Regions from separate parts of the Homo sapiens genome. Here all the other regions are linked to region 4. The links come from fine-mapping of genetic effects on gene expression. A gene starts in region 4. Each other region holds a variant in brackets. All regions are shown on one strand. Distances are from middle to middle. Region 1 overlaps VPS13A (vacuolar protein sorting 13 homolog A). Region 2 overlaps VPS13A (vacuolar protein sorting 13 homolog A). Region 3 has its middle 34 kb from the start of VPS13A. Region 4 holds the start of VPS13A (vacuolar protein sorting 13 homolog A). Region 5 overlaps VPS13A (vacuolar protein sorting 13 homolog A). Region 6 overlaps VPS13A (vacuolar protein sorting 13 homolog A).

Region 1 (5,078 bases), 140 kb before region 4:
CTACTCGAATTGTATTCTAGCCAGTGTGATAGGCAATATAAACAAGATAAAATAAAACACATCCAGATTGAAAAAGAAAAAGTAAAAATGTCTTCATTTGCAGCTATCATAACTATCTAAATCTACACAAATCTACTAGAATATGTAAGTCTAGTTAAATCTGCAAGTAGAGGTTAATATAACCTGTATTTCTAAATACTATCAATGAGTAATCAGAATTTAAAAATTAAAGGACAAGCCAATTTTATCCAGATTTTTTATAAAATTGATAATCTGATTCTCAAATTTATATAAAAATGAGAAGGACCTAAAATCCTCTGGAAAAAAAATCCATATGGTGAAAAAAAAAGCAAAACCTCAATTCTTAACTTCACACTGTATACAAAGGTTCACTCAAAATGGCTATGCGGCATATACATATAATAGATTACTACTGAGCAACAACAAGTAACTGCATGTAATAACATGGATACACATAAGTTGACACATACATACAAAATTTTTCTGAATGAAAGTCAAACTCCATCTGTACTGTATTCCACTTATGTAAAATCCTAGGCCATATAACTAATGTACAATGAGGACAGATCAGTGGATGCCTGGGAATGGGAAAGTGGGGAAACAGAAAATTTTTCTAAGAAATAAATATGTTCATTACCGTGACTGTGATGACAGTTTCAAAGGTGCATTTTTGTGTCAAAAGTCATCAACTTTAAATATATGCAGTTTATTGTACATACCTCAATAAAGCTGTAAAATTTTTTTATTTCTCTAAAAATTATCTAATCAAATAGAAAGGATATAAATACATTACAAAGACCTAAAGCAAAACACTGATGACTATTTATAAAAAATACCGTAAGAAGATTTTACAAAATATTCCTATTAAAAAATTATAAGAAGTATATTGAACAAATTCCTACCACCCGTCATAACCAAGTAGCGCAACTGGTGGTAGTGAGTCTTCTTTTTGATATCAGCTGTATTACTGTTACGGTTTATATTCTTTCAGTAATAATTTGTTGTTGTTGTTTTTAATTTTATTAGCACACAGATATGCATAACAGGACATCCCCCAAAATTGATCATTTCATACCTGCACTGGGGAGCGAATTGTGACCTTCTTACTTCCTTCTACTGTATCAATTTGACAAACAATAGATCTTTCAACGCCAGACTCTCTGTGTCTTACAGTGTACAGACGTCGTCCCACTTTTGTTAAAGGAATCTTATCAGCAGTAGAATGGTTAACAGGTGCTAAATTAAGTAAGTATGTTTAAAAGTTTTTATTATAATTCATTACATATTAATTTTACATATGTTACATATTAGAAATTTCAGATGATTCTTAAACTTATAAATAATAGTCACTAGAGTCTTTGGATATAGTCCATAAAAGGGATATTTTAAGAAGCCAGCATATATTTCCACAGCATTAATTAAAAAACTCCCATTCAGGAGTTTAACCCAAGACAACAATAGCAAACGTTTCAAAAATGAGTAATGAGAGCAAGTACTATAAAATACAAGAATACTGATCTCTGGTTTGCTGTCAGAATAACCAGAGCATAATACCTTTTGGTAGACATTGGTAAATATCAAGGTGACTACAATTTTTGTTTTTAATTTTTCCAACAACTTGTGTCACTTTTCCTTTATATCTTGGACTTGATTAAATAAAATTTTATATATATTTACCTAAAACACATGTTGTATTGGGGATAAAATTACTTACTTGCATAAATTTCATTTACCATCCCATCCATAAAAATGTTAAAAAAAAAGACGTAAAATTTATAAGAACATTAATTACAACGCTATGACAACACCTGAAACACCTGTTACATGTTATTTTCTAACTAGAAACACAAGCTATTTTAGTAGCCTACCCCCCTATGTCTAATTAATCTTTTAAATGATGCCCTCCTCAATAATTACTTAAATGCCAGAGTATCAAAAAGTGGTGTAGGTGAGGCTCTGGGACTATTTAACTTCACAATGACTACATATTATGATACTTTAAGAATGTATATATTTCACCTCCAATAAAAATGAAAAACTTTTGGGAAGCAGAAAAGACAAAGGAAAAAACCTTCATCTCAACAGGCAGAACATAAAAAAA[A/C]AAAAACCATTTATAAATCCTAAAGCCATTAAAAATTGCCATCTGCATGAATTCACACTTAGAATTCTTTCAGTTGCAAAACTGGTGGAATACTATCAACGGATACCAAATGTGAATAAAAGAACCCCCACAAACATCTAAACATCCACGGTCTATAAAAGCAGAATGAGGGCGAGATCTAATATTTTTCCTCCCAACAACAAAGCAGTAAATTGCCATGCTCTAAATAATGCAGAGGATAAAGAAAGAGTTTGGAATACAAAGTTTTAGTAACAATAGTAACCAAGACACTGCAAAGACAAAAAACAGTTCTTGACCTATTAGAAAGGATATTTTAAAAAAACAAAAACAAAAACAAAAAAAACCTTGCTAAGATTCTACAAAAGAGTAAAATAACATGTAAATTGTAATTTAAAACAAAATAGCCCCAGGAAGGTAATTTTTCAACTACTTACTAAGAAGAATGAAGAAGAGTTTGCTGCTTAGGCTGGTCATTGCATTGAAATGATCATTGTCCTTGGTTCGGATATAATCCATACTTAAACTTTCTCCATTTTTCAATACATATGATTTTGCCATAGGAATGTTGAGTACACTAAAAGAATCACTTGGCGAAACAGAAATAGTAAGTCCAAGGGAATTTAAAATCATAAATGGTGCTAGATCCTTTACGAAGTCAGCTGAAGATCCAGTGGCAGCTTCTGTAAATGCCTAATAAGAAAGAGTTATGCTAAATAAAATGAAATGTGTAAAATTAAATGACAAGGAGAACAGTAAAGGACAAATGACAACTAAGTTATTAAACTTCTTATTCAACAGACAGATCAATCAGACAAGTATCTCAATATTTAAAGTTTCAAATTTCTTTTCTTACCTTGACTAAATTGTTTAACATTACAAGACCACATTTGGATAATGTAATGTTTAATTGGTCTTTTGAATGGAAACTGATGACAGTTTTATATTCTGGCACTTTGTAGTTTTCTTCTTCAGGATCTGACTCAACAATGGCCATTTTTGCTTTCTTTTTCATCTAAAATGATAAATCATAGAAATATAAGGAAAAATTCTAAGAACACAACATAACTAGACAAATCCCAATACCAACATTAGAAAGGTCAGTACATTTTATCTTTTCTAATTTCAGTAAGTTCTATTGCCTTATTGAAATTACTTGGACATCAGCCAACTAAGGTCATAAAGGACAGAAGTATTAGAGAAAATAAATCATGTCATCATCAGTGATAGTAAAATGGCAGACACAATTTAGAAGGAAAAATAAAAACCTAAAATTACTATGTGTACCCGGGATCTGAATATAAAAGCACATACTTCAAAGCAACATAAAAACTCAGACAGAAAAAAGTAACTTAATGTATTGGTCATGCTAATAATAAAGAACAGAAACCTAGAGACTTACAAAGGCAGACAATAGTAGCAGAACAGTGTTATAAACCTAGAGCTCATAAGAATCAATACCCTTTACCATTTTTTAGGAGTCACAGATCTGCTGACCATGTGTATTCTAACCTAAAAACCACCAAGGAATTCCTTTTCATATCCTTCATCTAAAATATCTGGAAAATAAAATTAAGTGATCTAATATGAAAAGAGCTCAACATGCTAAGCTAGTCACCTCTGTTGTTACTTTAACTGGCTTTAAGCCACTGAAAATCTGTCTGCAGGTTGACCAAGTCATTATTAGGTAGGAAACACGTGAGTAATTCTGCAGTCTCTTGCTTCAGAAGCAAAATTTCATCCACCTAAAGGCCCCGATTCTCATGATTATATAAATCCACAATATATTTCAAACAAATAATATACATTCCTGCACACATGCAAACATCCAAAGGATGAAGGAAACTCAGGATAGACAACAACCTACAAGATGATGACACAGGCATTATAGCATAGTGGTTTAGAGTGGATTTAACGCCTCTGCAGCTGGATTTGCATCCCATCTTTTCCACTTTGTAGCTATTATTACTTCAAGAAGTCTCTTAACCTCCCTGGTCTCAGTCCCTTCACATGTTAAATAAAAACTGTATCTACCTCCAAGAGTTGTTGTAAGGATTAAAATATTTAGAACAATGTCTAAACTGTGTTCTAAATTATGTTCTAAATTGTTCTAAATTATGTAACAAGTAACATAATACTTGTTACATAATTGTATTAGAAGCATAGGCAACATTGGCCTTAGATTTGAAAATTATATTCAGAGGGCAAACAAGGAAGCATGTGGGCAAGGCTCATGATGAGACAACCTGAACCTTGTTGTGATTAAAATAAAGTGTCGAGTGTGGTATAAACATTCTCAATTTTGGAAAATTTTTTCAGTCTTCAAATATACGTTGATGAGGGAATGTTAATAAAGGGGGAGGCTATACATGTGCAGAAGTAGGTGGTATACGGGAAATCTCTGTTCCTTCTTCTCAATTTTGCTGTGAACCTAAATCTGTTCTTAAAAAAATAAAGTCTTTTAAAATACATATATATATATATACACACATAGACATATATAGATATACCTTGATACCAAGATTCCATGGTCTAAAATCCTCAGTCTGATCAATTTCTAAGGGTTCAAGCAAAGGCTCCCATACACCAAACATTTCATTATAATAATGCACCTACAGAGAGAATTTTTTAAATTAAAAATGATCTTCCATCCTGTTTCCCACCATGTTTTTTAGCCCTGTTATTTCTTCTATATAAAAACCAGTCTACATGCCATTCAGTAGCTTCCTATAAGCACTCCCTCAGCATTTTCCTCACCTGGCTAACTTCATAGTACATATTCGCTCTTCACAATTTAGTCCAGATAAAACCCCTTTTTAAGCATCTTTCCTTGATTCTACATTACATAAAAGTATAAGGCATATATTTCTAATTCTTCATATTTCTATTAGAAGAGATTATTATCCACATATTCAGAAATTCTGTCTATATCCTTAAA
Region 2 (5,078 bases), 110 kb before region 4:
CCCCATCTCTACTAAAAATACAAAAATTAGCCAGGTGTGGTGGCACACATCTGTAATCTCAGCTATTTGGGAGGCTGAGGCAGAAGAATCACTTGAACCCCGGAGGCAGAGGTTGCAGTGAGCTGAGATTGCACCACTGCACTCCAGCCTGGGCGACAGAGCAAGACTCTGTCTCAAAAAAAAAAAAAAGAAATGAGAAAGTATTTCAGAGAGAAATACAAACAATAGACAGAAACTACATGAAGTAGTTACAGAAAGAGTTGCAATGAAGAAAAATATAAAACATCTTTAGAAAACTAATTGCTCCAAAGAAAACTGACTAAACCAAATTCAATAGGTACACATTGTGAGTTTTCAACATGCACCAAAGTAAAGCAAATTATGATGATACCAAGAAAGATAGGAAATGGGAATTGGAAGCATGGTATTGTAAGATTCTTACACTATATGTACAACAATAAAATATTATTGGAAGATAGACTATGATTAAAGATATATACATTGTAAACCCTAGAGAAACCATAAAATAAATGATAATTAATCAAAAATCAGGCCAAAAGGAGGAATACAATAGGATAAACAAAATTAGAGAACAGAAAACAATTAGAGATATCAGATTACAATCCAATCATATCAATAATTAGTTTTATAAAATAGTCTAAACACAAATTAAAAGCCAAGAGATTGTCAGATTAGATAAAAAAGAAAGATCTAAATATACACTGACTGTAAGAAACCCATTTTAAGCCAGATGTGGTGGCATGCACATATAATCCCAGCTACTTACTACTTAGGCTGAGGCGAGCTTAAACACAGGAGTTCAAGACCACCCTGGGCAACACAGTGAGACTTTGCATCAAAAAACAGAAACCCACTTTAAACAAGAAAACATCCATTAAAAGCTAAAGGACAGAAAAAGATAGACCATTCAAACCTAACCGAAGAAACCTGGAATGGCTATATTACTACCAAAGTAGACTTCAGAACAAGCACAGTTACCACAGATAAAAAGACACATCACATAATCACAAAAGGGGCATAAAATTCATACACATTTATATGTACCTAACAAGAGATCTCCAAAACATACAAAGCAAAAAACTTAAAGAACTGAAAGGAGAAACAGGCAAATCAATGGTTATAATCAGAGGCTTCAACACAACCAGTAAACAGAAAATCAGTAGCCTGAATAATTCTATCCACCAACCTACTTGCCCAAATGGAACATTCAACCCAGCAAAACACATATTAATTTCAAGTACACTTGAAACATTCACCAAGATTAATCATATATGTTCTGGGCCATAAAACAAACATCAACAAATTTAAACGAACTGAAACGGTTTCTCCCCTGACCATAATGAATTTAAACTAGAAATCAGTAACAGAAAGGGATCTGAAAATCTCAAAATATTTAGAAGTTAAATAACATATTTCTAAATAAACAATGGGTAAAAGAAAGTCAGAAGAGAAATTAGAAAATACTTTGAATTGAATGAAAATAAAAATATGACATATCAAAACTTACAGGAAGCAGCTAAAGCAGTGCTTAAAGGAAAATTTATAGCAGCAAATGCTTACAACAGAAAGACATTCTCAAATCAATAATTTAAACTTCCACCTTAAGAAGAGCATATTAAATCCAAAGCAGGCAGAAGGAAGGAATCTTAAAAGAGCATAAATAAATAAAATTAAAAACAGAGAACATTCAATTGAAACAAATGCCAGTTCTTTCAAAGTATCAATAAAATCGATACATCGTTAACCAGGCTGATCAAGACATAAAAAGACAAAAATTATAATCTCACATGCTAAGAAAAAAAAACGTGAAAGACTACATAACTGCATGATTCCATTTATTTGATACTTTGGAAACTGCAAAACTACAGGAACGAAAAACAGTGCAGTGATTCTAAGGTGCTAGGATGGGGAGAAGGGCTAACCTCAAAGGGCAGTAGTGAATATTTAGGGTTGACAGACCCATTGTATATGCTGAAGGTAAGTTACACAACAGTATATGTTCGTCAAAACTCACAGAATTATAACTAAAAGAGGTAAGTTTTACTATAGGTAAATTGTCTCAATAAATCTTACTTTAAAAAGTAAAAACTAAACCAAAACAGAAACTAATAAATAATTCTACCCAAAGGTTACTGAGGGCCCTAAAACCTCCCAGAATATAGCAAGCACCTTCCTGCTACAAGGCTTTTATAGTTGCTCTTTCCTCCACCTGGAAAGCTCTTTCAACAGGGCTCAAATCCACAGCTCAGATTTCTGTCAAATGTTTCTACTGTAAAAAAGCATTTCTTGATAATCCTAATACGCCACGTGAATTATTACCTGTCACATTACCCTGCTTTCTTGGTTTTCAAAGCACATATCACTCTCTAATATTGTTTTATATTACTGATTAACTACTATTTATTCCACGTGGAGAAGGGCTTTTTATCTTTTGCTGACTATAGTATCTCAAATAGGCCAGG[C/T]GCTGTGGCTCAGCTCATGTCTGTAATCACAGCACTTTGGGAGACCGAGGCAGGTAGATCGCCTGAGCTCAGGAGTTTGAGGGCAGCCTGAGCAAAATGTTGAAACCCCATCTCTACAAAAATCAGCTGGGCCTGGTGGCACACACCTGCAGTCCTAGCTACTCAGGAGGCTGAGGTGGGAGGATCACCTGGGCCAGGGAAGGTCGAGGCTGCAGTGAGCTGTGATTGTGTGATTGGAGACAGAGAGAGAGAGAGAGAGAGAGAGAATTTTATGTATATATAAAATATATTATTATATAATATATATAATTAGTTTTTTCTTAATTTATTTACCAGTATTTATACATATATAATTTACATATATATTAATGTATAAATTGTATCTATATAATTATATAAATACTGGTAAATTAGTTTAGAATAAACCGAATAGCCTCTGCATGTCACATGAGTAGGACTATATGACTGTTCCTCTCCGAGTTCAACAGAACAGATTTGCTCGACAGAGTTTAGAGCAGAAAGGCTGTGGTCTAGGAGACTTCAGGTACAGAAAGACGGTTAATAAAACACCATGTTAAAAAGTGGTTATTTTAAGCAAAAATCTATAAACTAAATGATGAGGCCTCCACTTCTTTCAACCAATTGGCTTCTGGAATGTAGGCTGCCAGGCTTATACTTAATAGTATTTTTCTCAACGGAAACTAACTAGCCTAAGAACAAGAGATACTCTCAATCTGAGAACCCATAAAATTGCTAGACCAGTTCCTGACCATCAACTGTGATGTCTACCTGTCCAAAGTCCCTACATAAAGCTTCAAATTAGCTCTGAATGTCTGGGGAAAATGGCAAAGTTCTTAGAAGCGAAAGAAAGTCAAACTGTCATCAGAACTGTCAACACCAATACTAGGCCATAAGACATGGAGTAATATGTTTTAAGATCATCTAGAAAAGAAAATTCAAGGCAAGAATTTAAAATCCAGTCAAACTACCCTGCAAATATAAATAAGGATTATTGTTCCTATGAGCCCTGCCTAAGAAATCTACTGGAGAATAAACTTTTGAAAAGCCAAAATGATTGGTGATACCAGCATAAAGACTGGTGAACTCTCCCATTTAATAAATGAAGAAACGTCCCTACTGCCTCCAGACTTCCTGTCAGCCTCCCTGGTGGGCACCCCTCGAGGGTGTTTTGTTGTGTTGCCTCCCCGATGTCCCATCTGACCAACATGCCTGCAAGCTAGAAAGTGGCTATTTTGGCTTATGGCCACTCTCCAGACACAGACTTCAAGACCAAATTACAGGAAATAACAACAAATAGCTTCTAACATAAAAAAAAGAAAATATTCCAAGACAGTGCAAAACAGAAAAGAAAAAAAAGACAGCTACACACTATGTGCCTCCTATGAAAACACACACTACCAACTATGAAGTATCTTGCCAACCCCTACTCCCAAACCCTGAATCTCACTGTGCCCTGAGATTTAAATACCGATTTAAGGAAACACAGGATACAGTAACATGTTAAATAGCATGAAAACATAATCAGCAAGATACAGGCTATGGAAAATTGTACAGAATAAATAAGATAGCAACAAATGGCTAACACAAGGGCAGAGAAGAAACTAAAGGAAATTCATAAACTATAACAGACTTAAGTGGTATATCAATCAAATGCAGTGTGTGGATCTCCTTTGGATACTGAATGCCATATGGAAAATAAAATAAAGTGAATCCCAGACTCAACTATACACAAAAAATATTTGCACTGATAATTCCATCAAACATTTAAGGAATAATGCAAATTCTATACAAATTTTTCAGAAAACAGGAAGAAAGCATTTCCCAACTCATTTCATGAAGCAAGTGTTGGCCTAATAACAAGGCCAGAAAAGTTGAGAATAATTAGAAAGACTTGTGTACCCATCACCAAGAATTAAGCATTAAAAATTGGATTTTTTTAAGCCTTTACTTTCAAAATATTTTTTATGAAGAAGATATCAGAAACTAATTTACTATGATATGTTTTTCATGAGACTATCAGGTCAGCAAGAATCCTTTTTACCTTATGGCATATATAAATAAAAACAGTATTTGTCCAATGGTGCTACAGTAAATGGAGGATGCTGCTCCAAGACAGAGTCAAACAAATGGTCTGGGGGCTCCCACCCTTAAAGTTGAGGGCCTCAATGTCTCAGTACACTTAAAACTGGCACAATAATATATATCGCTGTACAAGGCTTATGAAACTGATTCATAATCAGGTCTGATTTCATAAGGGCAAAAACCTTATGCCTCTCTGGTTCTTTGACACGTGGAAAGTTACTAAACAAGGCAGTTTGTTTAAAAACCATGTACAATGGAATCAAAGAAACAGGGAAAGGGAAATGAAAATCGTGCAAGAAGACAAGGAGAAAGATTTTTTTTATTTTGTAACTTTCTGTAAACTGAATTTTTAACCTTGTAGATATATTAAAAATAAAATTACAGGCCGGGCACAGTGGCTCATGCTTGTAATACCAGCATTTTGGGAGGCCGGGACAGGCAGACCACTTGAGGCCAGGAGTTTGAGATGAGCCTGGCCAAACACAGTGAAAC
Region 3 (5,078 bases), 33 kb after region 4:
ATTGGGAGGCTGAGGCAGGCGGATCACAAGGTCAAAAGATCAAGACCATCCTGGCCAACATGGTGAAATCTCATCTCTACTAAAAATACAAAAATTAGCTGGGCGTGGTGGTGTGCGCCTGTAGTCCCAGTTACTCGGAAGGCTGAGGCAGGAGAATTGCCTGAACCCGGGAGGCGGTGGTTGCAGTGTGCCGAGATGGCACCACTGCACTCCAGGCTGGGGACAGAGCGAGACTCTGTCTCAAAAAAAGAAAAAAAAATTATGCATTTTGTTAAACTTATTGGTTTTTGTTCTTTTTATAGAGAAGTAAGTGCTGTTATAAAAAATTACAAACCTTGCAGAAATGAACAGAATGTAATACAATCCAACAGTTTCTCCTTAATAAAGGATGTTAACAGTTTGGCCAACACTCTGTATTTTTTCCTATGCATTTAGTAAGATAATTCTTCTAAAACTGGATTGTTTATACTTTGGGAATCTGGACTTTGAGAATCTACACAAGACCTGGTCTTGGGAGCCCAGTAAGTCCCATGCCCCATGTGGAAAGCCTGGATGTGGGAGCCAGGAGCATCTGCTTTTCAGACACAGCTCTGTCTCTTATGAGCATCTTTGGGCAGTTTATTTAACCTCTGTAAGTCTCAGATTTCCTCATCTGCAGATAAAAATACTACCTATGTAATAAAATTCTTGTGAGAATTAAATGAGATAATGCTATAAACGGATTAGCACGACATGAAAAATAAGTTCTTGGCAGGATGTGGTGGCTTACACCTGTAATCCCAGCACTTTGGGAGGCTGAGGTGAGTGGATCTCTTCAGTATAGGATTTTGAGAGCAGCCTGGGCAACATAGAGAGATCCTGTCTCCAAAAAAAAATAAAAAATTAGCTGGGCATGATAGTGCACACCTGTAGTCCCAGCTACTCTGGAGGCTGAGGTGGGAGGATTGCTTGAGCCAGAGAAGTTGAGGCTGCAGTGAGCTGTGATCATACCACTGGATAAATATTAATTTTTAAAAATTTTCAGTAAACCTTATTTTTTTAGATCAGTTTTAGGTTCACAGCAAAATTGAGTGGAAAGTACAGAGAGTTCCCATGTTCCTTCCCCTACAGCCTTCCCCACTATCAACATCCCCCACCAGAGTGGTACATTGTTACAGTCCATGATTCTACATTGATATATCCTTCTCACCCCAAATCCATATACACATTAGGGTTCATTCTTGATGTCGTAGGTTCTATGGGTTTTAACAAGTGTATAATGACAAGTATCCACCATTGCAGATCCAGCTCTGTACACTGAGATACAGGATACAATGCAGATACAAGATGCATTGTATCTTATATCTTCTAGATATATCAAGATACAATGTAGAATGTACTTGTATCCAAGTATCCATAGTGGATAATTTCATTGCCCTAAAAATCCTCTGTTCTCTGCCTATTCACCTCTCCCTTTCCCCTAACCTCTGGCAACCACTGATTTATTGTTTTACTGTCTTCATAGTTTTGCCATTTCCAGAATGTCATATAGTTGGAATCATACAATATTAACTTTTTATTATGCTCATTATTAGTATTACTACTACTACTGTAGGCACTTTCACTTAATATATATTGGACATTCTATTAACATATGATTTTATTAATTATTTCTAGCTTATGTATAGCATTTCACTGTATGGATGAACTTAAATGTCATATGCTTATTTTGGTTGTTTTTCAATTTTTCTTGACCATAAACCATTCTGCAGAGAATATCCTTGTATACATATATTTTCATACTTATATGTGTCTCTCCTATAAGGATTTTTGTTTTATTTTGTTTTGTTTGTTTCTTTGTTTTTTAGACAGGGTCTTGCTCTGTTGCAATCCACCTCAGCCTCCCAAGTAACTAGGACCACAGGCATGTGCCACTGCAACCACCTATTTTTTAATTTTTTAATTTTTGGAGAGGCAGATCTCCCTATGTTGCCCAGGCTGGTCTCAAACTCCTGGGCTCAAACA[G/A]TCCTCCTCCCTCAGCCTCCCAAAGTACTGGGATTACAGGCGTGAGCTGCCATGCACAGCCAAGGGGAATTGTTGAGTCAATGGGTATGAATATTTTAATAAAGTTTTACCCATTAGTTCCACACACAGTTTATTTATTTATATTTCCACTAGCAGTGTACAAGACTGTTTTTCCACATACTTGCCCAAACTGGATATTAAATTTCTTTTTAATCTTTGCTAATGGGTGACCCCAAAATTTTGTATCCTTGTTATATTATTTTACATTTAACTACTAGAGAAAACAAGCGTTTAAAGTAATCTACTGATGCTACAGTTTTTTATTTAGGTTTCTATTTTCCCAAATTCTCCTGGTCTATTTTCTTTTTATAAGGATTACTTCCTCTCTTACTTTATTTCTTTCATTCCTTTTTCCTCCATTCATCTTTCAGTTTTTTTCTCTCTCCTTTATTTACCAACGGAAGGACATTTTATGAGTCAATGCCATTTTTCCTTAATATTAAGTGGTCTCTGGGTCCTTTTAATTAATACTCTCTTTATTTTATTTGCCTTCTCTAAACAGAAGACCCCAAATGATTTCATCCTTTATTTCCCAAGTCAATATTTTCTCTTTTCTTCACTTCTCACATTTTATAGAAGAAAGTAGAATGACAGGTACTGTAGCTTCCTCACTACCTCTTTGAAATGGAAAAGGGCTGGTTTCTTTAATACTGCATTTCCTCTTTTTCCACTTCAGGCTCTCATCTGCAGCATGTAATTGTTTCTTTGGCATTCCAAATACTACCCTGTTGCTGATAGAAAATGTCACAGCTTGTGTGAGTGCCAGCTGCAGCCAATTATATATTAAATGACCTGCATTGGCATGAACAGGTTTGGCAGAATGCATTACGCTTTTGTGAGATGAAATTTTGCTTCGATAAATCGTGCTTGCATGGGATTTGACCTCAGGATGAAATCACACTCTTGTCTGAGCTGAAACAGCGGCAGCAGTCAAAGTACCAAACAACCATGATAGCATGAATATCCAAATGGTATTTTTTGATTGTGAAAATTATATCATACATAATAACACAATGGCCGTGAATAGGGCTTTACTTTTTTATTCCAAACTCATTATATTCTAGTTTTCCAAAGTTGGAATCTTTTCCTTATTGTCCACAGAAATAATGTATAGACAGACATATTCCCTACAAAAGCATGTAACATATTGATTTAAATTTTATGTTAAGCAAATCAAAATCATTTGGTATTTATTGTGAAAGTAATTTGTACCTTCAAGGAACATTTTCACATTTTCCAAGATAAATTAAGTTAGTTCACACCTTAGAATTACAAGACTTTCAGGAGCCTAAATCATCAAAATAATAACTCATTGAAAAAAAAAGTAATATTTTAATGGCTTGTATCATATAAACTCAAACGTGAGTTTACCAAAAGCATTATTACCATTACATTTAATCTTAAAGTGGTAATGTCATAGTTAAAATCAAATCTATATCCATTAGCATAGTATGCAGTCACTGAAATCTGATTAGACAAACTGTGTAGAGACAAGGAAAGATATTTATAGCTATCTAAACTGAATAAAGCATACTATTAAAATATAATTGCAGGCCTACATATACCATCAGATTAAGATAGCTATCTTTTATTCTGGGGATTAAGTTGTCTACATCCTGCTATTACATTGTCTTTCCCATAAAAAATTACTCTATACTAAGTCCAAACAATGGCTAATGTCCAATGTTTATTCAGTTATTCAACAGTTATAGCTTTCATTAAGCACATGTCAGTAAGTCACTTGACTAATGTTCATATTATGCCATCAATCTTCAGAATGGATTTAATCCCCGTGACTACCTTTAGCAATCTTGAAAATCTGGTACTGAATAGGTTTGTATTGATCAAGGGTGATATTCAAATTATTAAGAATCAGTCAGGGCTGGGCGCAGTGGCTCATGCCTGTAATCCCAGCACTTTGGGAGGCCAAAGCGGGTGGATCACCTGAGGTCAGGAGTTTGAGAGCAGTCTGGCCAACATGGTGAAACCCTGTCTCTACTAAAAATTCAAAAAATTAGCTGGGTGTGGTGGTGGGTGCCTGTAATCCCAGCTAGTTGGGAGGCTGAGGCAGGAGAATTGCTTGAACCCCGGAGACAGAGGTTGCAGTGGGCCAAGATCGTGCCACTGCGCTACAGTGTGGACGACAGTGCGAGACTCCGTCTCAAAAAAAAAAAAGAAATCAATCAGAACAGACACTTTAGCAAGCACCAGACACAGCCATCATGAATGTAGGGACTGAAGATCCATTCCGGATAGAAGTGGAAGGGTGCTTCTAGAAACAGGCAGGGTGGAGCCCTGATTTTCCGGATATTGGCATAGTTTGATGAATAACACACTACTTGGTTTACAAAGAGAAGGCATAGGTGCTAGTTCCAATTTTGCCAATTTTCCTTTAAGCCTCAGATTCTATATCTGTAAAATAAACTATTCAAAGAATAAGATCATATATTTTGGCAAACACTATACATTTTATAGTGAGTACAATAGAACCCATGAGAACTTAGCAGTCATTAATGAAATATTAACATTTTATTCATTTACTTGTAGACACAATTCAAAATCTTGTTCTCAGTTATATCCCTTAATGAGTCCCATGACAGAACTTCGACTAGGTAATGCAGATTTGAGATAATACATACTGATTCAATCTAAAATCTGTCCCTGTGAATTATAAATGATGCTTGGAAATGTCAACTGTGTAGGAAGTTACCTTCTTCTGATTATAAAAGCCATATTTGTGTCCAGTGAAAAGAGAAGTACATGCCACATGTGAATATAGGGTTCAGAGTTAAGACACGTTTTCTACAACAAACTCCTCCAGGGTTGATTGCAATTTGCTGAACATTTATAGTACAAACAATGCTGATAATTTATTAATCCTATAGAGTTTTACTATTATTTTTCTCAGTTCCAATTCATTTTCTTCCTTCAATGTTCTCTTGCCTTACATAGTGGAGTTTCGGGTGGTTTCCTAGTTTATTTGACCTCATTTGTGACATTTCATTGGCATCAAC
Region 4 (5,078 bases):
ACATTTTAAAAGAGTGAAATTTATGGTATATGAAATAAATCTCAAAAAAAAAAAAAAAACGTACAACCCAATTTAAAACCACTCTTAGGTATTTATCCAAGAGAAATAACAATTATGTTCACACAAACACCCGTACGTGAATGTTTATGACGGCTTTATTTATAACCTCCAAAAACTGAAATATTCTTCAACCAGCAAACAGATAAATACTTACAGTCAGGCGGGCGCAGTGGCTCACGCCTGTAATCCCAGCACTTTGGGAGGCAGAGGCAGGCGGATTACTTGAGGTCAGGAGTTTGAGACCAGCCTGGCCAACATTGCAAAACCCCCTCTCTACTAAAAATTAGCCGGGCGTGGTGGCGGGGTGAGATCAACTGCAAAGGAGCAGCTGAGAGAATTCGGGAGGCTTGATGAACCTTTTATGTGCCATTATTGTGGTGGTGCATACATGCCTCTTAGCATTTGTCAAGACAGAACTGTATCACAAGAGTGAATTTTACTGCATGTAAATTTTAAACAAATAAATAAGTTGATTAATCACACTCTAGACAAACCTCCACCCTGAATGTGGAAGCAAGACTCCACTACAGATCAAAGTTCACCTCAAGTATTCTTAAGGCTTCCTTCTGAGGTACATGGGAGACAAATTTTATTTTCACTTTGCAACTAAGAAGCAGCATAAACAGACTGCAAGTTTCTTGTACTAATCAAACAGGCTGAGCAGCTATCACTATATCCCTAGCTTTTGTAGTCCACTCACTCTCCATCATGATACTAGGTCCCCACGGTAGTAACATTCTTTAAAATCAAACTAAACTACCTGTTTACATTATCTCATAAACGAGAAGAGTCAAGGTAAGTATTTTAGAAGAAGACTGGAAGTGTGTGCACAGACAAGAATAAATTACTTTAAATATATATTTAAACACACACACTTCACACACAAAATTAACCCTCACTTTGGCCTGGGAAATTCATTTCACAAAGGAGTCTAATTTCTAGCGGGTGTTTAAAATAAACAAGCGCATAATGCAAAAACAGATGGAAACACTAAAAATGAGGCTCTCACTAAGGCAGAATACCACACTAAACGGACACAAGGAAAGCTCGGTCCTTCACCACCTAGGCAGCGTAGGGCCCTGTTCAGCCCGGTCTTTTGCAGGTCTGAGACGTTGCACCGCACGCCCTGGTTTTTCTTTAAAATTCGGCAATTCACTCTGACCCACATATCCTAAAGTCTTGAAAATGTTACACATTCCTAGGTCAGGCTGTTAACTGCAACCACACAAGCAACTGTTTGAGTTACTTTGCACTTGAGTTTCCTTTTTGTTATCCGCCGAACCCAGGCGAGAGAGAGCCGGCGTCCGGGTCCTAGGGCCGGAAGGGGGAGAGCAGAAAGCACCACGGGTGAAGCCAGGAATTGAGGCTGGGGAAGCAAGGAAGCGGGCGTCCCCGGTCACAGCGCCCTGCCTTCACGTGCGAGGCAGCATGCAACACGCGGGGGATTTCTGGGGCCTTCGTCATAAACCCAGGGGGGCAAAGGACAGGGATGGGACCCAGCCCAGGAAGGCGTCGTCTCGCCTCCTCGCCCCGCGCGGCTAAAGCCGGACCGTGCGGGGCCAGGGGTAGAGAACGGCCCCTCGCCGGGACTTGAACGCCAGACCCACGGAGCCCACGGCAAGTCCGCTCCGCTCGGAAAATATAGACCTTTTCATCCCGCACTCATGACCCTCTCCTTTCCCCCAAAATATAAACAACTCGAGGGCGGAGGCCAGGGAACTGCCGCCCGGCTTTACGTAACTTGACCCACAGGCGGGCGGCGGCAGGTGGCTGCACCCGGCGAGCAAGGTGCTCGAAGCCCCGAGAACGCAGGACGCCGCTCGGGCAGCGAGACGGCCGGGAAGCACGAGAGGCCGGGGAGCGGCGGCGGCGGCCTCCTTACCTTTCCAGATGCCCAGAGAGAGCTGGGACGTGTCCAAGTCCACCACATAGTCCCCCAAGAACCGGTTCAACACGTCCACGACCACCGACTCGAAAACCATGTTCCTCAGCCGTGGTGGGCACGGCAGCCGGCCCGTGCGCTCCTCCTCCCGCCGCCTTCCCCACGCCCCTCCCTCGAGGTAATTCGGTTCACCGGCTCCGGGGCGGCTTCAGCTGCGGCGCCCCCGCTGGCCCAACGCGCAGCCCTAGCGAGCCCAGCGAGAGACGGAGGCGGTCGCTCTCACGACGCGTGCGCAAGTCTGCGCGCGGCTGGAGGCGGAGCGCGGCGCAGACCTGGGCGCGCAGCCCTGAGAGGGAGGAAAGGCGGCTGCGCGGCCGCGGCTCTGGAGGGTGCCCTTTTCGCGCCGAGCCCGGCTCCTCTTTCCTGTCGGCCCCGCCTCCTCCCCATCGCCTGGCAACGGGACACCGGTCTGGAGCTACCGGATTTTTTCCGACCCCGCCCCCTCCTGCAGATCAGCGTCCCCAGCGGCCCCCCAGGGCGGGGCGGTTACGCCCGACGGGAACGCCCCTCCCCCTAGAAGGTGGTGGCCGCTTCCACGCGTATGACAGGGCTCGCCCCTGAGTAAGGGTGGGCGGATCCCAGCCCCGTCGCCAGAAGCTTCAAGGGGGCTGTCCCAGGGAGCATCTCCCCTCATCATTACAGGGTGGGAGGGTCCAGCCAGCCTGGGTGTCTTGGTGCCTGTAACCTCCCCGCCTGGTCCTCCGACCGCCTGGCTCTCAGGAGGAGTTAACTTCCTGCTGCGAGTCGAGGATGGAGTTACATAGTCCCTGCCCTGCATCTGAGATGAGCACCCATTTTTGGTCAAGTCATTTATACGGAGCTGTCTTTCATTCCAAAGAGTAACACGCTTCCCTGCAGATAAGAGTTGGAGTCAGCCGGTCTGGAAACTGCTGAACACCCTCCAAGAAATACTGGGAGTGCTGGACCCTTGACCCCTATGCCTCCACCGAACCACTGACCTAAAATAAATTACAATTACAGATCTTTCGACCTGTTTGGTCTTACTTAGAAGTAATCCCAAAGGCCTGAGGTCACAGAGATGCTAAATGTGAGGTTTAGAGAACTGTAATTAATCATCTGCAGGACCGAAAAAGTGTACATTGAGCGTTTTCTCTTTACACGTTAAATGAATAATGATGGATTTCTATTAATTCCTGTGTCATTTTACTACTTTTTGTGCATAGTCACCGACTTTTCAAAATTAAATGTTTAGGGTGTGCCTTTGCAAGTAGAATGCCTGACAAAAACTGTAAGTTTTTACCTGAGTTTATGAATGTTTTTCATATAATTTTATATTTGAAGGACCTTTATGAGGTCTCCAACCTCCTAGTCTTAAATATAATGAAGCTGAAGTGTTAGGGATGTGTGCAAGGTCATACAACCAATGTTCTGTGGAAGAACTGGAACTTGGCCCTTCTGATTGGCTACCACCCCACCTGCTTCTCTCTCATTCAGCTAACAGTCTGCTTCAGAATACCTGCACGGAGAAACGAATAGAGGCTAAAATGCCTAGGAAGGGGAAGAGCTCTACATAATGAGGCATTTTGCCATTGCACTATTAATAAGAAGCCAGATACACAGTAGCTGCAAAATTCCGCTGTTATATCTAGCGCTGCAAATTCAAAGTTACAAGAATTTCCAGAACTCCAAAAATCCATCTTAAGTATCTTGCAAACGTTTTCATATTAGTTTTCTACGATCTAGGAAAATTTTGTGGAAGTGAGGAAGGGGAAGGGATGTTGCTGAAAAGTTAGAGGTATAAGCATAAAGCAATGAAAAAAAATTCTGCTGAGGAAGAGTTAGAAATAAGTGGATGCATATTGTAACCGAATTCTTATCTAGTGTTAGATGTATATGAACATGCTTTGTAAATACTAAAAGACAACATTTTGCATTCAGTCTTTGCATTGCTTAATCCATCTAAGGAAGTTTGTAAGCAAAAATATATTAACATCATCATGTAAAAGGTATGCTCATTAAACCATTAAACCAAATTTCTGTTGTACCTTGAAAAATAAGCCCAATGACTACCATAAAAACTCGAGTTTCAAATTAGGAAGTATGTCAGTGTATGTTATTCTTTCTCTAGATCACAATTAAAATGCTATACTTCATTGTTTGATCAAATGGAAAAACAAAAGAGGGGGAGAGCATCTGAATGACCCCAAACTGCAATATCATCTAACTTTACAATAAATCTCTAACTTTGCAAGTAGGACTTGCAGTTTTATGTATACCTTCCATGCCACAGCTCTTCGTCTTTAAAGTTTTGGTGTACTGGTAGTAATCTTGGAATTTTTTTTTCTCCTAATCTTAATTCTTTTGTCCACAAGTAAATGTCATTGGTGGGCTGCTTGTCCTTATCATTCCCCATGGGCATTGTGGTAGCAGGCTAGATGGCCAGATAACAAAGCTGTTGAAGCAGACCACAAAGCTGTTGAAGCAGAAGATGTCCTGGAGGAACAAGTGTAGAAGATGGCCGTTTTATAGGTATGGGACTTTTACTGATCTAACTTCACAGAGCCCTGTGCTCCATCTGTTTATGCTTTAAAAATTTTAAACAATAAAAAGTTATTTGGAGCCTGGCATGGTAGCACATGCCTGTAGTCCCAGCTACTCCAAGGGTGAGAGGATCCCTTGAGCCCAGGAGTTTGGGGCTGCAGTAAACTATGATGGTGCCACTGCATTCCAGCCTGGGTGACACAGTGAAAAAAAAAAAAAAATTCTTTAGACCATGTGTTCCAATCCTTAATAAAAAGAGAAAAATTCACTGGAAGGGGAATACAAGCAAAAAGGTAAAAACCTTATAAGAATCTTACTTAAGGCCAGGCACAGTGGCTCATGCCTGTAATCCCAGCACTTTGGGAGACCGAGGCAGGTGGATCACCTGAAGTCAGGAGTTCGAGACCAACCTGGTCAACATGGCGAAACCCCGTCTCTACTAAAAATACAAAAAAAAAAAAAAATTAGCCAGGCATGGTGGCACACACCTGTAATCCCAGCTAGTCAGGAGGCTGAGGCAGGAGAATCGCTTGAACCCAGGAGGCAGAGGTTGCAGTGAGCCAAGATCACACCA
Region 5 (5,078 bases), 230 kb before region 4:
TCATCCATGTCCCTACAAAGGACATGAACTCATTATTTTTTATGGCTGTATAGTATTCCATGGTGTATATGTGCCACATTTTCTTAATCCAGTCTATCATTGTTGGACATTTGGGTTGGTTCCAAGTCTTTGCTATTGTGAATAGTGCCGCAATAAACATATGTGTGCATGTGTCTTTATAGCAGCATGATTTATAATCCTTTGGGTATATACCCAGTAATGGGATGGCTAAGTCAAATGGTATTTCTAGTTCAAGATCCCTGAGGAATCGCCACACTGACTTCCACAATGGTTGAACTAGTTTACACTCCCACCAACAGTATAAAAGTGTTCCTATTTCTCCACATCCTCTCCAGCACCTGTTGTTTCCTGACTTTTTAATGATCACCATTCTAACTGGTGTGAGATGGTATCTCATTGTGGTTTGGATTTGCATTTCTCTGATGGCCAGTGATGTGAGCATTTTTTCATGTGTCTTCTGGCTGCATAAATGTCTTCTTTTGAGAAGTGTCTGTTCATATCCTTCACCCACTTTTTGATGGGGCTGTTTTTTTCTTGTAGATTTGTTTGAGTTCATTGTAGATTCTGGATATTGGCCCTTTGTCAGATGAGTAGATTGCAAAAATTTTCTCCCATCCTGTAGGTTGCCTGTTCAATCTGATGGTAGCTTCTTTTGCTGTGCAGAAGCTCTCTTTAGTTTAATTAGATCCCATTTGTCAATTTTGGCTTTTGTTGCCATTGCTTTTGGTGTTTTAGACATGAAGTCCTTGCCCATGCCTATGTCCTGAATGGTATTGCCTAAGTTTTCTTCTAGGGTTTTTATGGTTTTAGGTCTAACATTTAAGTCTTTAATCCATGTTGAATTAATTTTTGTATAAGGTGTAAGGAAGGGATCCAGTTTCAGCTTTCTACATATGGCTAGCTAGTTTTCCCAGCACCATTTATTAAATAGGGAATCCTTTCCCCATTTCTTGTTTTTGTCAGGTTTGTCAAAGATCAGATGGTCGTAGATATGCGGCGTTATTTCTGAGGGCTCTGTTCTGTTCCATTGGTCTATATCTCTGTTTTGGTACCAGTACCATGCTGTTTTGGTTACTGTAGCCTTGTAGTATAGTTTGAAGTCAGGTAGCGTGATGCCTCCAACTTTGTTCTTTTGGCTTAGGATTGACTTGGCGATGTGGGCTCTTTTTTGGTTCCATATGAACTTTAGTTTTTTCCAATTCTGTGAAGAAAGTCATTGGTAGCTTGATGGGGATGGCATTGAATCTATAAATTACCTTGGGCAGTATGGGCATTTTCATGATATTGATTCTTCCTATCCATGAGCATGGAATGTTCTTCCATTTGTTTGTATCCTCTTTTATTTCACTGAGCAGTGGTTTGTAGTTCTCCTTGAAGAGGTCCTTCACATCCCTTGTAAGTTGGATTCCTATGTATTTTGTTCTCTTTGAAGCAATTGTGAATGGGAGTTCACTCATGATTTGGCTCTCTGTCTGTTATTGGTGTATAAGAATGCTTGTGATTTTTGCACATTGATTTTGTATCCTGAGACTTTGCTGAAGTTGCCTATCAGCTTAAGGAGATTTGGGGCTGAGACGATGGGGTTTTCTAGATATACAATCATGTCATCTGCAAACAGGGACAATTTGACTTTCTCTTTTCCTAATTGAATACCCTTTATTTCCTTCTCCTGCCTGATTGCCCTGGCCAGAACTTCCAACACTATGTTGAATAGGAGTGGTGAGAGAGGGCATCCCTGTCTTGTGCCAGTTTTCAAAGGGAATGCTTCCAGTTTTTGCCCATTCGGTATGATATTGGCTGTGGGTTTGTCATAGATAGCTCTTATTATTTTGAGATACATCCCATCAATACCTAATTAATTTATTGAGAGTTTTTAGGATGAAGGGTTGTTGAATTTCGTCAAAGGCCTTTTCTGCATGTATTGCGATAATCATATGGTTTTTGTCATTGGTTCTGTTTATATGCTGGATTATGTTTATTGATTTGCATATGTTGAACCAGCCTTGCATCCCAGGGATGAAGCCCACTTGATCATGGTAGATAAGCTTTTTGATGTGCTGCTGGATTCGGTTTGCCAGTAATTTATTGAGGATTTTTGCATCAATGTTCATCAGGGATATTGGTCTAAAATTCTCTTTTTTTGTTGTGTCTCTGCCAGGCTTTGGTATCAGGATGATGCTGGCTTCATAAAATGAGTTAGGGAGGATTCCCTCTTTTTCTATTGATTGGAATAGTTTCAGAAGGAATGGTACCAGCTCCTCCTTATACCTCTGGTAGAATTCGGCTGTGAATCCATCTGGTCCTGGACTTTTTTTGGTTGGTAAGCTATTAATTATTGCCTCAATTTCAGAGCCTGTTATTGGTCTCTTCAGAGACTCAACTTCTTCCTGCTTTAGTCTTGGGAGGGTGTATGTGTTGAGGAATTTATCCATTTCTTCTAGATTTTCTAGTTTATTTGCATAGAGGTGTTTATAGCATTCTCTGATGGTAGTTTGTATTTCTGTGGGATCGGTGGTGGTATCCCCTTTATCATTTTTTATTGCATCTATTTGATTCTTCCCTCTTTTCTTCTTTATTAGACTTGCTGGCGGTCCATCAATTTTGTTGATATTTTCAAAAAACCAGCTCCTGGATTCATTTTTTGAAGGGTTTTTTGTGTCTATTTCCTTCAGTTCTGCTCTGATCTTAGTCATTTCTTGCCTTCTGCTAGCTTTTGAATGTGTTTGCTCTTGCTTCTCTAGTTCCTTTTTTTTTTTTTTTTTTTTTTTTTGAGATGGAGTTTTGCTGTTGCCTAGGCTGGAGTGCAGTGGCGCCATCTCGGCTGATTGCAAGCTCCGCCTCCCAGGTTCATGCCATTCTCCTGCCTCAGCCTCCCGCGTAGCTGGGACTACAGGCGCCCGCCACCTCGCCCGGCTAATTTTTTGTATTTTTAGTAGAGACGGGGTTTCACCA[T/C]GTTAGCCAGGATGGTGTCGATCTCCTGACCTCGTGATCCGCCTGCCTCGGCCTCCCAAAGTGCTGGGATTACAGGCGTGAGCCACTGTGCCCGGCCTAGTTCTTTTAATTGTGATGTTAGGGTGTCAATTTTAGATTTTTCCTGCTTTCTCTTGTGGACATTTAGTGCTATAAATTTCCCTCTACACACTGCTTTGAATGTGTCCCAGAGATTCTGCTATGTTGTGTCTTTGTTCTCGTTGGTTTCAAAGAACATCTTTATTTCTGCCTTCATTTCGTTATGTACCCAGTAGTCATTCAGGAGCAGGTTGTTCAGTTTCCATGTAGTTGAGTGGTTTTAAGTGAGTTTCTTAATCCTGAGTTCTAGTTTGATTGCACTATGGTCTGAGAGAGAGTTTGTTATAATTTCTGTTCTTTTACATTTGCTGAGGAGTGCTTTACTTCCAACTAAGTGGTCAATTTTGGAATAAGTGCAGTGTGGTGCTGAAAAGAATGTATATTCTGTTGATTTGGGGTGGAGAGTTCTGTAGATGTCTATTAGGTCTGCTTGGTGCAGAGCTGAGTTCAATTCCTGGATATCCTTGTTAACTTTGTCTCGTTGATCTAATGTTGACAGTGGGGTGTTAAAGTCTCCCATTATTATTGTGTGGGAGTCTAAGTCTCTTTGTAGGTCTCTAAGGACTTGCTTTATGAATCTGGGTGCTCCTGTATTGGGTGCATATATATTTAGGATAGTTAGCTCTTCTTGTTGAATTGATCCCTTTACCATTATGTAATGGCCTTCTTTGTCTCTTTTGATCTTTGTTGGTTTAAAGTCTGTTTTATCAGAGACTAGGATTGCAACTCCTGCCTTTTTTTGTTTTCCATTTGCTTGGTAGATCTTCCTCCATCCCTTTATTTTGAGCCTATGTGTGTCTCTGCATGTGAGGTGGGTTTCCTGAATACAGCACACTGATGGGTCTTGACTCTATCCAATTTGCCAGTCTGTGTCTTTTAATTGGAATATTTAGCCCATTTACATTTAAGGTTAATATTGTTATGTGTGAATTTGATCCTGTCATTATGATGTTAGCTGGTTATTTTGCTCGTTAGTTGATGCAGTTTCTTCCTAGCCTTGATGGTCTTTACAATTTGGCATGTTTTTGCAGTGGCTGGTACCGGTTGTTCCTTTCCATGTCTAGTGCTTCCTTCAGGAGCTCTTTTAGGGCAGGCCTGGTGGTGACAAAATCTCTCAGCATTTGCCTTTCTGTAAAGGATTTTATTTCTCCTTCACTTATGGAGCTTAGTTTGGCTGGATATGAAATTCTGGGTTGAAAATTCTTTTCTTTAAGAATGCTGAATATTGGCCCCCACTCTCTTCTGGCTTGTAGAGTTTCTGCTGAGAGATCAGCTATTAGTCTGATGGGCTTCCCTTTGTGGGTAACCTGACCTTTCTCTCTGGCTGCCCTTAACATTTTTTCCTTCATTCCAACTTTGGTGAATCTGACAATTAAGTGTCTTGGAGTTGCTCTTCTTGAGGAGTATCTTTGTGGCATTCTCTGTATTTCCTGAATTTGAATGTTGGCCTGCCTTGCTAGATTGGGGAAGTTCTCCTGGATAATATCCTGCAGAGTGTTTTCCAACTTGGTTCCATTCTCCCCATCACTTTCAGGTATGACAATCAGACGTAGATTTGGTCTTTTCACATAGTCCCATATTTCTTGGAGGCTTTGTTGATTTCTATTCTTTTTTCTCTAAACTTCTCTTCTCGCTTCATTTCATTCATTTCATCTTCCATCACTGATACCCTTTCTTCCAGTTGATCGCATCAGTTACTGAGGCTTGTGCATTCGTCACTTAGTTCTCGTGCCTTGGTTTTCAGCTCCATCAGGTCCTTTAAGGACTTCTCTGCATTGGTGATTCTAGTTAGCCATTCATCTAATTTTTTTTCAAGGTTTTTAACTTCCTTGCCATGGATTCGAACTTCCTCCTTTAGCTTGGTGTAGTTTGATCATCTGAAGCCTTCTTCTCTCAACTTGTCAAAGTCATTCTCCATCCAGCTTTGTTCCATTGCTGGTGAGGAGCTGCGTTCCTTTGGAGGAGGAGAGGTACTCTGATTTTTAGAG
Region 6 (5,078 bases), 210 kb before region 4:
AACTTAAAATCAACATTCAACACTGCATCAGTGATATGTGTTTTGAATAGTTTCAAAAACAAATTTATAAAATACTGATTATTTTAAATAAGGAAACAAAATTTGACTTCCTTTTCTATAATACTGAAAATTGGCAATATTATTCTGAATTTACATTTGTTTTATTTATATCCCATGTGAGTACTAATTAATTTCATTTACAGGCTTAGATTATTTATCTATGGTTATGAGTGTCCACAATTACAGATTTTTACAAATTTTTCTTCCTGCCCGTTTTCAATATGTTATTCAAGCGTCAGGTAGACACAAAGGAAAATAAGGAATCTCCAGGTAATCACTCCTTCAGGGAAGTGAACCTTCCTTCCCATTTTCTATACATAAGCAATGATCGTGCAGAAATCTGGAACATAAATGAAGTTAAAGCATATGGAAAGGTGTGGCATTACATAATTTTCAAACAGCTTTCTCACTAGACTTTCCTGTTAGATACTACCATTTTAAAAGTTCTAGTTAATTATAGAACCATTGATAAACAAGAGTTCATCTTATTAAAATCCAAATATAAATTCATTTTCTATATATTTGATAAGAAATAAGAATATATTTTTGCCTAGATCCTCTATCTCCATCAAGAGAACAATGGTGTAAAACAAAAGAGCAATTCTGTCTTTTTTTTTTGCTTTTACTAGAGAAAAATTCAAGTTTTTTTTCAAAACTGGAACACAATTAATACCTGTCCTCAAGAGGTTTGAAAAGATAATTTCACTGTGGCAGAAAAACAAGGGCAATTACACTGTCAAAGAGCAGATCTCGGCTGGGTGCGGTGGCTCACGCCTGTAATCCCAGCACCTTGGGAGGCCGAGGCAGGCGGATCACGAGGTCAGATCGAGACCATCCTGGCTAACACGGTGAAACCCCATCTCTACTAAAAACACAAAAAATTAGCCGGGTGTGGTGGCAGGAGCCTGTAGTCCCAGCTACTCAGGAGGCTGAGGCAGGAGAATGGCGTGAACCCAGGAGGTGGAGTTTGCAGTCAGCCGAGATCGCGCCACTGCACTCCAGCCTGGGCGACAGAACGAGACTCCATCTCAAAAAAAAAAAATTAAAAAAAAAAAATAAAGAGCACATCTCATCTCTAAGGGCTAAAAACTGAAGAATGATGAAACTCTAAGACCACACAAGCAATGTTTACTAGTTACTAGCATATTATTTAAAATATTTTTACTGAAGAAATTTTAAATAAATGTAATCCTACCTCCAATTTTCTTTTCATGAAAATGGTAAATCACTGCTAAGATAACCACAACTTTTTTTTTTTCCGATAAATTCTTAAGGAATGAAAGGTTAAGATCATCTTTATGAATCCCATTCCATGAAATTAAGTGTCACAGGCCAAGCACAGTAAATTTGGGAAATGTCTTGCAAACAAGTAGTTTCCACAGTCTCTTTTACAAAGGCCTTGTGACTAGCAAAGTTGGAATGTAAGAAGCCAATGAAGAAACTTCCAGACTCTTCCTTCCTTAAGCATATACAAAATACAAAAATAGGCAGTATTCTTTCTAGATTTTAGAAGGAGCAGTAAGTTTTGTTTGATTTTGGCCAAGGGTGAGAGAGGAGTGGGTGCACAACAAATACAAAGTTGGTTTCCAATAAAGCAATGACTATTTTAATGGTCACTATTTGTATGTACTTATTCTAAAAAGATAAAAATACTGTGATTAAAACAATAATTGAATTTTTTGATGTTTACATAACAGTTTTTTAAAACAACTTTATGATGTTTACATATTAGTAAGTTTGTTTTCAAACAAATTTTACATACATAACCTTGATTTCTATTTAATTTGAATGAATTCTGCATAGGAAGAAATTTCAAAAAAGCTGATTTTTTTCAGTTTTTTTTGCAGTAATCTCAATATTTTCAAATTTAAAGTAGTCACTTTCAAAAAACATAGAGAATGATTTATAGAAATAAAACTTGATAAACCTAAGAATTAGAGGAGACTCAGAAATCATGTGCTGAATCAGTTAAATTAAATCACCTGTTGCTTATACTGAGCTTCTGCTGTAGTCAAGATAAATATTCCTTTGTTGATCCAAAAGCACAGCAGTCATAGGGATTAAACATTCTAACTACCAAAGATCATATACTTTTTAGAGAATTTTTTAAAGTACGTCTGATATGTTAGAGAAATAGGACAGTTTCATCTATGTTGAAATTTTTTTAAAAACCTTTATTACACAAAACATAAAATAGATTTACTAATGGATCTTTCAGAGATATATGTAACATTTTCCCTAATATTACACAGAAAAAATATATATAGTTATGTTTACGATAGAAGTTTCCAAATATTCTGAATTCATAATAGAAATATAGTAGATGCATATACAAATTAATAAGTGAATATAATGACTATTAAAACCAACTTTGTTCATTGTTTCACAAAAAATATGTGAAACAAAACGGTAAAAAGTAAAGCAAAGACATAAAAGAACGGTCTTTTTCATTCTCAGACTATAAATTATTTTACTATCTACTCTTCCATGAGAGGCCATGACTGTTTTTTATAATAGCAGTTCAATCTATATGATTTGGGGATAGAACAACAAATTCACACTCCTTTAGATTACATATGTTTATTATTATTAAAAGAAATTTGACAAAAATATCTTTAAAATGATAAATATAAAACATTAAATGGCTATTACTATTTTCTTCCTTTTTTTTTACACAGTGGCATTACATTAAAGCCCAGAAAATTTACAGAGACCATTAAAAAAAGGCATTTTGCTAACAAATAAGAAGGCAATTTAAAATAAAACCAGTGAACATCAAAATTATATTTAAGTCTAACTTGAACTCTTAAAGACAAACTATGCAATACAAAGCTATAAAATATATAAAAGCAAATCTATAATATGTTGGATGCCCTCCCTACTTTGGA[T/C]GTAAGATACATTTTTTTCTGTGCTTAAATAATACAATTATTTTGCTTTATGAAAATGTGTAGGAAAACATTTTAAAAGAAAATGTGTTTTACCTCCCTATAAATGGACATATGGGCATTATGGTATAAGTCATACAAAACATGTTAATGAAACATTCCAAGTAAAATAAAGAACATATGAATTTTAATGGTTTAGATCTGACTCATCATCATCATCATCATCATCATCATCATCACTACTGCTACTGTGAGTCATAATCCACTCCCTGTAGAATTGAATTTTCTGTAAGCATGGCAAAGGAAAAAAGAAGCACAAAGGTTAGTAGAGTATGGCAAATTGCTTGAAAACATGTAAGATTATGAAATGTTCAAAGAGTGAGAATAATTTTAAAGCAGATTTTTTCAGCTATGACTCAGACTGTAATTATGGATATAATATTCCATAACTTAATAGACCTAAGACAATTCCACTAGTTGGTACAAACTCAATGTATAAATTGGTTTGATGATATCAATAAGGTATTTTGTGAATATATTAAAATTACCATTCTATTTCTCTAATAGGCAACTTTGACCAGCAGGAAACACTGTAATAATGTGCTACCTTCTAGATAGAAAGGTACACAATAAAAGAATGTATTTTATATTTAATTATTATATGAGTGTATATAATTTAGTGAATACATCTTTTTTAGAAAATAAGAAAATAACATGAGAAACATTTGAAAGTATCAAATATTTTAAGGCACCTTCATTATATCACTTACATAAAATCTAGGCAGATGAGATGGATTTTAAATCCAGTTTATGTGTCATCTAATTATTTTCCACAGTACTGGTATTTACATATTTTTTAAGTGTTTGCTAATAATACACTAGAGCTTTGATTAAAAAAAAAAAAACAAAACCCACCACCATCAAAACAACAATCCACTTTTTATACCTGTAAGAAAAAAATGCTAACTGCAACATCCCAAGGTACTTGGTGAATCCCTACAAATATTTCAGCTAATACTGTGTAAATGCTTGCTGAAAAACAAGTAATGGCTGACAAGTGCTGTGGTTTTTAGTCATTTAAATAGCTCTTTTAGTGATTAATGATGAGACTGACCTATTAAAAATAAATATGTATCTTTAAAAGTACACAGTCAAAAGTCATGTTTTTACATCTCAAAGTTTAAAGCTTCAGAAAACAATGAGAAGCTTCACTAAAATCAAATTATCAACCATGAGAAATTATTGGTATCTCATGGCTTCCTTGTGGGTATCATAACGTGCTCACTTATAATGAGGATATATTCCTAAACTCTCCTCAACACTCATCCTTACTTCGTACTATATTTGATTTTTAGTCTAGTAAAATGTTAGTAACTTGTTAAATGCGTTCTAACAAGGGAAGGCAGGTATTGGGTAGAAATACATGTTTTGACTGTATCAGCCATGGGTGACTTCTGCAAATTTACTATCTTCCAAAGAACGATACACTGTCATTGTAGAGACTGCACAATCTGTCCATTAGAGCACAACCTCTTAATAGATTACCAGTTCTATCCCAATATACAATGATTTTGATGCTTCAAAAACATTTTAAATACAGTATAAAATCACTTAACTAAATATTGCATATTAACTCTATGGTTACATTTTTGTATATTAGAAGCCTCAGAGAAAGAGTTAGAAGTATATTTTATGCAATACTATATGCCCTGCAATAGGTAAAATACTGAAGTTTAAATCTTTACTCTGATCACATTAAATATCACAATATTTAAAATATTAAAGCCATAAAGGAAGCTTCATATTCCAACAGTTTATTGCTACCATGAGTATCTGCAAGCCTACATAACATAATGATTCCTTGTTTGTTTTCAAACAAATGATTTAATTTAGTATTCCACCTCTAAACCACAGAAACAACATGACACTGGTATAGCCTATATATGATTACTAGTTACCTACAGCATAATCCAGGTTTTAAAAAGTCGAATTTACCAAGTAAGAAAGTTGTCTAAGCAGATTCTAACTTCAAACTGTCTATTGTTCCAGATGCTACTTTGTATTATTAAAAGATACTGGTTTGCATGTGAACTGCTTATCAAATCCCACAAGTTTTATAAAGACTACACTAGA

The links. PIP is the estimated chance that this variant, and not a neighbour inherited with it, causes the effect. A credible set is the group of variants that fine-mapping cannot tell apart.
Region 1: its variant is the best candidate, but not a certain one, in a credible set for the expression of VPS13A in whole blood (TOPMed, PIP 0.76).
Region 2: its variant is the best candidate, but not a certain one, in a credible set for the expression of VPS13A in visceral fat (GTEx, PIP 0.57).
Region 3: its variant is the best candidate, but not a certain one, in a credible set for the expression of VPS13A in caudate (GTEx, PIP 0.88).
Region 5: its variant is the best candidate, but not a certain one, in a credible set for the expression of VPS13A in visceral fat (GTEx, PIP 0.52).
Region 6: its variant is the best candidate, but not a certain one, in a credible set for the expression of VPS13A in ileum (GTEx, PIP 0.50).

Annotation. Positions count from the first base shown.
Region 1 is chr9:77,319,246-77,324,323 of GRCh38, reverse strand. It overlaps VPS13A (vacuolar protein sorting 13 homolog A), which reads right to left. Exons shown (of 72, transcript NM_033305.3): 42 at 4,651-4,752; 43 at 2,997-3,155; 44 at 2,578-2,833; 45 at 1,097-1,257. Among named protein-coding and RNA genes, the nearest start is that of GNA14-AS1, 130 kb to the left of the region's middle. The variant A/C (reference allele first, on the strand shown) is at 2,123.
Region 2 is chr9:77,284,896-77,289,973 of GRCh38, reverse strand. The region is part of intron 31 of VPS13A (vacuolar protein sorting 13 homolog A); the gene reads right to left. Among named protein-coding and RNA genes, the nearest start is that of VPS13A-AS1, 110 kb to the right of the region's middle. The variant C/T (reference allele first, on the strand shown) is at 2,484.
Region 3 is chr9:77,141,253-77,146,330 of GRCh38, reverse strand. No RefSeq gene overlaps it. Among named protein-coding and RNA genes, the nearest start is that of VPS13A, 34 kb to the left of the region's middle. The variant G/A (reference allele first, on the strand shown) is at 2,005.
Region 4 is chr9:77,174,669-77,179,746 of GRCh38, reverse strand. VPS13A (vacuolar protein sorting 13 homolog A) reads right to left here and starts at 2,213. Exons shown (of 72, transcript NM_033305.3): 1 at 1,943-2,213. The coding sequence starts at 2,042. VPS13A-AS1 (VPS13A antisense RNA 1) reads left to right here and starts at 1,830. Exons shown (of 2, transcript NR_026668.2): 1 at 1,830-2,120; 2 at 2,841-2,991. RefSeq lists silencers at 1,048-1,217, 2,200-2,494, 2,256-2,585 and an enhancer at 2,200-2,494.
Region 5 is chr9:77,409,374-77,414,451 of GRCh38, reverse strand. All of the region lies in intron 71 of VPS13A (vacuolar protein sorting 13 homolog A), which reads right to left. Among named protein-coding and RNA genes, the nearest start is that of GNA14-AS1, 36 kb to the left of the region's middle. The variant T/C (reference allele first, on the strand shown) is at 2,974.
Region 6 is chr9:77,382,738-77,387,815 of GRCh38, reverse strand. All of the region lies in intron 68 of VPS13A (vacuolar protein sorting 13 homolog A), which reads right to left. Among named protein-coding and RNA genes, the nearest start is that of GNA14-AS1, 62 kb to the left of the region's middle. The variant T/C (reference allele first, on the strand shown) is at 2,949.